Homo sapiens: one gene and its partner. The protein of the gene in region 2 purifies or fractionates together with the protein of the main gene of each other region. This does not show direct contact. Each region holds a gene or a part of one and is shown on either strand. Other genes may lie near its edges.

The links.
Region 1: the proteins of TAC3 (region 2) and ITIH2 purify together in Homo sapiens (affinity purification with mass spectrometry; one large-scale study listed by BioGRID and IntAct). This does not show direct contact.

What each region holds. Positions count from the first base shown.
Region 1 is NC_000010.11:7,709,816-7,713,625, reverse strand, and holds part of ITIH2 (inter-alpha-trypsin inhibitor heavy chain H2 precursor), read right to left. Parts: intron 446-3,810; coding exon 341-445; intron 1-340. UniProt on the Homo sapiens protein: May act as a carrier of hyaluronan in serum or as a binding protein between hyaluronan and other matrix protein, including those on cell surfaces in tissues to regulate the localization, synthesis and degradation of hyaluronan which are essential to cells undergoing biological processes.
Region 2 is NC_000012.12:57,013,464-57,018,044, forward strand, and holds the start of TAC3 (tachykinin-3 isoform 1 preproprotein), read right to left. Parts: upstream 3,067-4,581; 5' UTR 2,924-3,066; intron 2,340-2,923; 5' UTR 2,335-2,339; coding exon 2,221-2,334; intron 209-2,220; coding exon 115-208; intron 1-114. UniProt on the Homo sapiens protein: Tachykinins are active peptides which excite neurons, evoke behavioral responses, are potent vasodilators and secretagogues, and contract (directly or indirectly) many smooth muscles. Is a critical central regulator of gonadal function.

The DNA of each region.
Region 1 (3,810 bases), on a different chromosome or scaffold from region 2:
TATGTTAAGTTTCGTAACAAGATCACAAGATCACCAATATTTCTGTAGTTTCTCTCTTCACTCTTTAGAAAAAGCAGTGTTTATTTACAGAACATCCATCTACCTGCAAGACAGTGATGTAAGCACAACCAGCGTGGGATCACCCAAAACCCATTGGTTGAAGAGGGACCTTTAGGCGAATAGAAACTGCAGTGCCTAATTCTAACATCTGGCTCTGAGGAGGTTGCCATTGGCTCAGGTGCTGTGCCTTTCCAGAGGCTGCTTTGCTGCTGTGGGAAGGAAGTAGGAGAGGAAACCGTCATTGAGAGGCAAGGGCAAGCCTTGCTCACTCAGGCCTTACCTCACCAAGCCAGCCGTCTTGCCTTTTGCTCTGGCCTGTGCATAAAGAGCTCGGCCCACAGTTTTCTCCTTAATAGAGCTCCTAAATGTCTTGCCGTCCACAGTCCTAGAAAATGACAGAAGGTAACCAGTTGGTCAGAATAGTAATCTTTTTTTTTTTTCCCCTCGAGATGGAGTCTTGCTCTGTCACCCAGGCTGGAGTGCAATGGTGCAATCTCAGTTCAGTGCAACCTCCACCTCCTGGGTTCAAGCAATTCTCCTGCTTCAGCCCCCTGAGTAGCTGGGATTATAGGCGTCTGCCACCAGGCCAGGCTAATTTTTTGTATTTTTAGTAGAGATTGGGTTTCGCCATGTTGGCCAGGATGGTCTCGATCTCCTGACCTCATGATCCACCTGGCTTGGCCTCCCAAAGTGCTGGGATTACAGGTGTGAGCCACCGCGCCTGGCCCAGAATAGTAATCTTAGCAAAACAAACAAGAGCGAGCAAACAACCCAACAAGGCTAATTTAATGAATGAGGGCAATGATCATTTTGTGTCTATAAGAAATAAGAAGGGAGGCATTCAAATAGTTTATGGACAGGACTTCCTTTATTGATTGGATAGTGTGGCTTGAGAGGGGTTTGGTAGGCTCCCATCCTAAAACCTTTCCCTCATGTACTGTTGTTTGTTTATAGATTTTTCCTCATCTTTGAATTTCATCCTTTAGATTAAGGATGGTTCTCTTTGGGTATCCCCTTTGAATGACAAATGTGATTAGGGGAGGTGACTGATAAATTCCGAATTATCTCATTACTGGTTCATCAGGTCATTCTGTGAGCTAAGAATTTGGCATCGCTGTGGGGTATGCAATGGACCGAATGTTTATGTTCCCCGCAAATGTGCATGTTGAACCTTACTTCCTAGGACGATGACATTACGAGGTGGGGCCTTGGAGAGGGCTCTCTCCTCATGAATAGCATTTAGTGCTGTCATAAAAAACAGACTTCGAAGAGCTCTCTCATCTCTTTCCATCTTGACTGAACCAGGAAATGGGCCCTCACCAGACACGAAATCCTTGGGCATCTTGATCTCGGACTTCCCGGCCTTCAGAACTATGAATTTTAAATTTCTGTTGTTTATAATCTACCCATTTTATGGTACTTAGTCATAGCAGCCGGAGCTGATGAAGACAGAATATTATGCTCCTCTGCAAGGGTGGAAAAGAATAAAGAAAAAGGGGGAAGGTGCTGGTGGGTCCCCTGCCAAGGTGGTGTTTATCTGGAAACCATCTCCCTTGGGGACCTCTGTCTTCTATTTGCATCTCATCTCTATACACCTTACCTTTAGCTGGCTAGCACCTAATCCTTACCAAGTAATGGTTGGTCAGAGTGGTAGAATCCAGAATTTTGGAAGTACATGGGAACTTCCAGTACTCAAATGGGCAGTGTCTTTCCCAAGGAGCAATTTGGAAATGTGTGAAGTTTGGGTTGTTGAGATGACTTGGAAGTGCTGCTGGCATTTGTGGGAGGACACCACGAATGTTAGTCATCCTGCAATATGAGGGACAGCTCCACTGAAGAATTTTCCTGCCCCAAATGCCAACAGCACGTGTGTTGAGGCACACTTGTGGGTTTGCCCCTTTAGATGAGAGACATCAGACCCCAGGAGACAGGTGACTCTTGCCAAGGTCACACTGCTGGTCAAGGCCATCATGCTTCTATCGAATCAGAACTAAGTCTCAAAGGCCAAGGGGTCTTTAGGACAAAGGAAATCATCTCCCATAGAATATTCAAGATCTTGATAAAAAGGTAAAAGGGATATTTTGGCTAGTACATAGGTCTACACAGCTCATTTTAAGTTGTGATAATTAAGCAGGTATCTTCTCTGGTCTTATAGATTCAGCTCAGAGCAGAGGGAGATAAAAGTAAATGCATGTTTCACGATTCTGTCCTTTGTACTTCAAATCTTCTATGTAATGAGATAGTAAAGAAAGAACAGAATGAAGGACGGAATAGTATGCAGCCATAAAAAGGAATAAGATCATGTCCTTTGCAGGGACATGGTTGAAGCTGTAAGCCATCTTCCTCAGCAAACTAACACAGGAACAGAAAATCAAACACTGTATGTTCTCACTCATAAGTGGGAGTTGAACAATGAGAACACATGGACACAGGGAGGGGAATATTACACACCGTGTCCTGTCGGGCGGTAGGGGGCAAGGGGAGGGAGAGCATTAGGACAAACAGCTAACGCATGTGGGGCTTAAAACCTAGATGATGGGATGATAGGTGCAGCAAACCACCATGGCACATGTGTACCTATGTAACAAACCTATACATTCTGCACACGTATCCCAGAACTTAAAGTAAAAAAGAAAAAAAAAAAAGAAGGAAAACAGAAATAAGAGATCTTTTGAGTAAATTCTGATTGTGTGGTTTAAAAATAGGAATTTATTAAAATAGTTTTCAATGTCATTTCTAGACATGGGGTCATATAATACCAGTACAGAAAAGCCTTTCCTTCTCCCTTTGCTTTTTAGAAAAGGCAGACAAAAAAAGTGATACATTTTAAAGCCAATTCAAAGGATACCAATTAAAGTGACACAATGCCTTTTTCTGCCTATTTGGTTAGAGTTCACATGACTGCCACTTTCGGCAGCCAAAGTACATGGTGGTTGAACCCTTTACTATTTATCCACAATGATCACTGATTACCTTGGTGTATGAAAGACAAAAGTGGATGAGAAGTAATTCAACCTAATGTCTTCATAAAAAAAAAATAGCCAGACTTTATGCACAGTACTTTGCTGTGTTCTTGGCAACTTAAGAGGGACATTGACCACCTGGAACATACTCTGGGTTGGCCACCTTGATATTTGGACATAGAAATCATTCCAATCACTTAGAGGAACAGAGAATATTTAACTTTGATACATGAAGGCTCCAAGTGGATAACTGGTATTAACTGTTTGGAAAGTATTGGAGTAGTTTAACCTTCTTTTATTACGAAAAATTTCAAACACACAGAAAATAGAGGGAATAATATGAGATGTCCATGAAACCATCACTGAGCTACACCATTATGAATACTCAGCCAATCTTAATTTGTCTGTACTCTCATGCTTTCCACCTTAGTTGTTAAGAAGCCAAGTTCAAGGCCAGGCACGGTGGCTCACGCCTGTAATCCCAACACTTTGGGAGGCCGAGGCGGGCAGATCACGAGGTCAAGAGATCGAGACCATCCTGGCTAACACGGTGAAACTCCGTCTCTACTAAAAATACGAAAATTAGCCAGGCATGGTGGCGGGTGCCTGTAGTCCCAGCTACTCAGGAGGCTGAGGCAGGAGAATGGTGTGAACCCGGGAGGCGGAGCTTGCAGTGAGCCGAGATCACGCCACTGCACTCCAGCCTGGGCGACAGAGCGAGACTCCATCTCAAAAAAAAAAGAAGCCAAGCTCAGATGGCACATCATTTCATCTATGAACACTTCAA
Region 2 (4,581 bases):
CTCACCGATTCACTAAGCTATCCCCCATCTCTCTCCCATCTGAAAGGATCTCCCAGGCCTCTTATCTTCAGAATCCTGCCCCTCATTCCCCTCTCCCCTAGGGCCGCCTCCTACCTGTGCTAGCCTGGCTCAGGGCTTTGAGCAATCCCTCCAGAGATGAGTGGCTTTTGAAGAGTCTCTGGAGCAGCTGGTAGAGATCTGGATCCCTCTAGGGAAGAAACAAAGAGGGGTGAGGCAGGAGGCTCCCACCCGGATCCACTCATCCTTTTCCCACAAGAAACAGCCTCTTCCTGAGCCCATCCTGAATCCGACACCCTATTTCTTTCAGAGTTTCCTCTGGTTCACACTGGACGAGAAGTAGGTGCTCCAGGAGTGACCTGTGGACCAACAGCAACACCAGCACTACACAGAGCCTGTTAGAAATGCAGACTCTTGTTCCTACCCCAGACCTCCTGAGACAGAATCTGCATTTTAAGCAGCCCCCCAGGTGATTCACATGCATGGTGAGATTGGAGGCACACATCTGCACCTGTGATTCCCCCACTCTGCACGATGTCCATGGATGTTTCTCTCCCTGTTTTCCACCACCTCTTTCTCTATTCTCCATGGCTTTCCGCCTCTAGTTTTCTCTCCCTCTCCCTTTTGGCCCTAGGTCTAGAATTCCAGGAAGGCAACATGCTCAGAAGGCACGTCTTCTTCTCTCCACAACTGAATCCCAAGTTCTAGAGCTGTTGCCCAGCACGGGCTCTTGATTGTCCCTGTGATTTTTTTTTTTTTTTTAGCAACTTGCGTACAGCAGGGTGGTGGGCACACACCACACAGCCAGTTAATTGCAGCTGCAGAGAGACAATAACAATGATCATGGCTGGAGATTTTCATCTCAAATCTCAAGTCTCAGCAGCGCCTCTCTTTCCAGAACCCAGGCATCCTTCGGCTGTTGTGCACACACAGAAGTGCATTTACACAGAACACACCCCCACACATACCAACCCAGTTGCCTAGGCACACCTATGTACTACCCTCTTCCTGCCCCAATTTCCCTCATCCTCACAGACTCTCAAGGAGAAGGGGTAGGATGGCAATCCCTCTCATTCATTGACCAAGAGGGGCAGAGGGGACATCTCATTGGCCAAGGTCTTGAAACAAGTTTGTCTCAGAAGAACTCAGATACTCTAACTATCCTGGGCTGGAACTTTGTGGCTCCAAACGGTGTCCAGCCCATACTTGGCACTCCCCTGGGTGTTTTTTTTTTTAACGGTTCTGGCCTTTTGGATATGGCACAACTGCTGCCACCTGCAAGGCTGCCCTGGTGATAACTCCCTTGGCCCAGCATGTGGTGTTCAGGCAGCCACTTTTCCCAAATTGTTGAATACTCTGCCCACCTCCTATAATGAGATGCTGAACAGATTTGAGCTGAAGAGGCAGTTAAACTTCACACATTGAATTTGTAATAAGTCCCACCCGCAATCATCTTAAAAGCATTTGTACCGATGTAATTGCTGTCATTTCAAAACCTTGAAAAGACTTCCTCCCTATCCTCCCCCTGTACCCCTACCCTGACAATTCCTATTCTTTTTCGTAAAGGAACTGTGGAAATCGAGGCTCAATCTGGTTTTTTTGCTGTTGTTGTTTTCCTATCCTGACTAAGCAGAGGATAGAGGCGGGCAAGGGAGAAAAGAGAAGAAGGAAGGGGTTGGGATCTTAGAAGCACCTGAGGTTACTGGGGGTGGATGAGCAAAAGATAAGGGAATTTATTTGCATTTTGAAAATAAAACAATACACATAACTGATAGGTAAAATAGCACACAAATAACCATTTGGGAAAGAAATTCTGACTGTTTCATACCATCCAGGAAATAGAAGAGATCTGTCCCTTGCAAAGGGACCTGAGGTAGACTATAGAGAGCCTTAGACCACCCTAGCTCACCCCTCACAGTACCATCCAATCACCAAGTCTCCCATCAATCAACCCACCAAACAACATATTTGTAGGGCACCTTTTATGTACAAGGTGTCAAAGACATGCAGAGATACAGAGACACAAACACACCTGGAGACAGTGGGAACATGAAAGGACCAGAGAAACAAAGAAATCCAAAGGGAGGCAAAATGCCCTCTGACGGACAACCCCCCCACCCCAGTTTCCTCACTACAGCTGTCCAGACAGGCAGAGTCCCAAGTTCCCGTGATGTCCCCAGTACTCTGCCAGGGGAGACTTACCTTGCTGCGGCCCCCGCCAGGAACCACCTCCTCCTGTGGCTCCTTACAGACAGCCCCAAAGCTCTGAGCTAGGCTGAAGGCCAGGATGGCTGTGAATAGCAGCATGATCCTCATGGTGCCTGGGAGAGCAAAGGGACAGGACTCAGGTAAAGGAGAGAAGAGGAAGATACAGCATGGGTGAAGACACAAGAGACATTCATTACCAGCAGCTTGGCTTGACCCTGCTTCCCCAGCCCCCAACTCCACTGTCCAAGCCCTGGTCTGGAGAGAGGGTGGAAAGTATTTCTGAGAAGGGGGTACAGCCCTTGGGCTTAGTTTCCCTGCTACCCCATCAGATATCTCCCCAGGAGATGTGCAATGCTATAGTGGTGCCAGGAGGACTCTAGCTCCCAAGAAAGATGATAGATTTGTAGGACATGGACTGGTCTGTTTCCTCAGTCAGCTGGAGGAGGGATCCTGGATGCTATTTTCCAGTACTAGATAATCCCAAGACTTAGGCAAAAACTTTCTGGTATGAAAGAATGAGTCTGTAGCCACAGGCTCCAAACACCAACCAGCTCTCGGCCCTACAGGTGCTTTGTGCTCACCTTCCCAGTCCCCTGCTCCCCTATCAGAGGCTGCCATCTGCTTTATTCCCTCCTGACGCTGGCTCCTGTCCCCTGGTGCCAGCTCTGGTCCATCCAGCATTCTCCCACTTGCCTACCTGTGGAGCAGCTCTGTGCCGGGGGCTGGGTGGTCTGGCAGGATCAAGGAACTGGCTAGGACCGCTGCCTGCTCCCCTCACACACTGGTGCTGCCGGTGCTCCTGCAAAGAGAGAAACCGAGTGGAGGGGATCTAGGAAGGCTGCAGTCACTCAGTCCCAGCTCCCTGATAAAGGCTCTGGGAGGGTCTAGGGGAGCTGAGGGGAGGGGCTGAGAGTCACCAATCCCAGGGTGGCTGGAGGGGAGGCGGGGAGGCTGTAGGGGGGAGGAGGATGCAGACAGTAGCCACACACCCAGACACACACATACCCCACAGACCCAGCAGTGAGACCATTTCCTAACAGCACCCGAGCTGGCTGCTGTGTATGGTTTGTGTACAGTTTGACACTGCTGGGGCTTAGAGGACAATACTCCAAAATGAAGGCCTCAATAGCCGCCTCAGAAGCAGAAGTTTTTCTCTGACCCTCTCTTGTCCTCTTGTCACTCGGTTCCATTCTCCCCCAAGACCAGCTATAAAAACCAGAACCCCTTTGCCCCAAAGCCAGCCATAAAACCTAAAATTACTCTATGTAAAAACTGGCCAAAAAAATTATCTGACCGGCCGAGTGCAGTGGCTCACGCTTGTAATCCCAGCACTTTGGGAGGCCGAGGCGGGCGGATCACGAGGTCAAGAGATCGAGACCATCCTGGCCAACATGGTGAAACGCTGTCTCTACTAAAAATACAAAAATTAGCTGGTCATGGTGGCGCGTGCCTGTAATCCTAGCTACTCGGGAGGCTGAGCCGAGATTGCACCACTGCACTCCAGCCTGGTGGCAGAGCAAGACTCCATCTAAAAAAAAAAAAAAATTCAGAAAAGATGACACTCACCCCTTTTTTGGGGTCTCCTACTTTCGTTGTGGAGTTTCACGAGTCATGGGCAGATTCTTCTCAGGTCTAAAGCTCTGCTCTCTTCTACACTACATTACCTAATCTCTTTGGTTTTTGAGGATGCCAAAAATAAATTACTTTGTATTATTTAAAAAACTAGACATATAGCTAGTCATATATAATAACTAGATAAAAAATACAGTTTTAGAGATGACTTATGACAGTTATTCACAACAAAGTATTACTACTATACAGGGCTACTTATTTCTTCGTGCATTTAAATTTTTAAAAACATGGTCTGGGGCACCTAAAGACAATGAAAGCACTCACCATTGAGGATGAAACTCCCATTAAAAATAGGCTAAGCACGCCAGGCATGGTGGCTCACGCCTGTAATCCCAGCACTTTGGGAGGCCGAGGCGGGCGGATCACTTGGGGTCAGAAGTTCGAGACCAGCCTGGCCAACATGTTGAAACCCCATCTCTACTAAAAATACAAAAAATTAGCTGAGCATAGTGGCTGGTGCCTGTAATCTCAGCTACTTGGGAGGCTGAGGCAGGAGAATCGCTTGAACCCACGAGACAGAGATTGCATTGAGCCGAGATCACGCCATTGCACTCCAGCCTGGGCAACAGAGCAAGACTCCACCTCAAAAAAAAAAAAAAAAAAAAGACTAAGCACAGAGTGGGCTAATCGGCACTGGGCTGCCTGCCAGCCTTGGGGGAGCATCTTTACAGTGGGGCACTCGATAAAAATGCCACACATCTCGTCCCATGACATTTCCCTCTT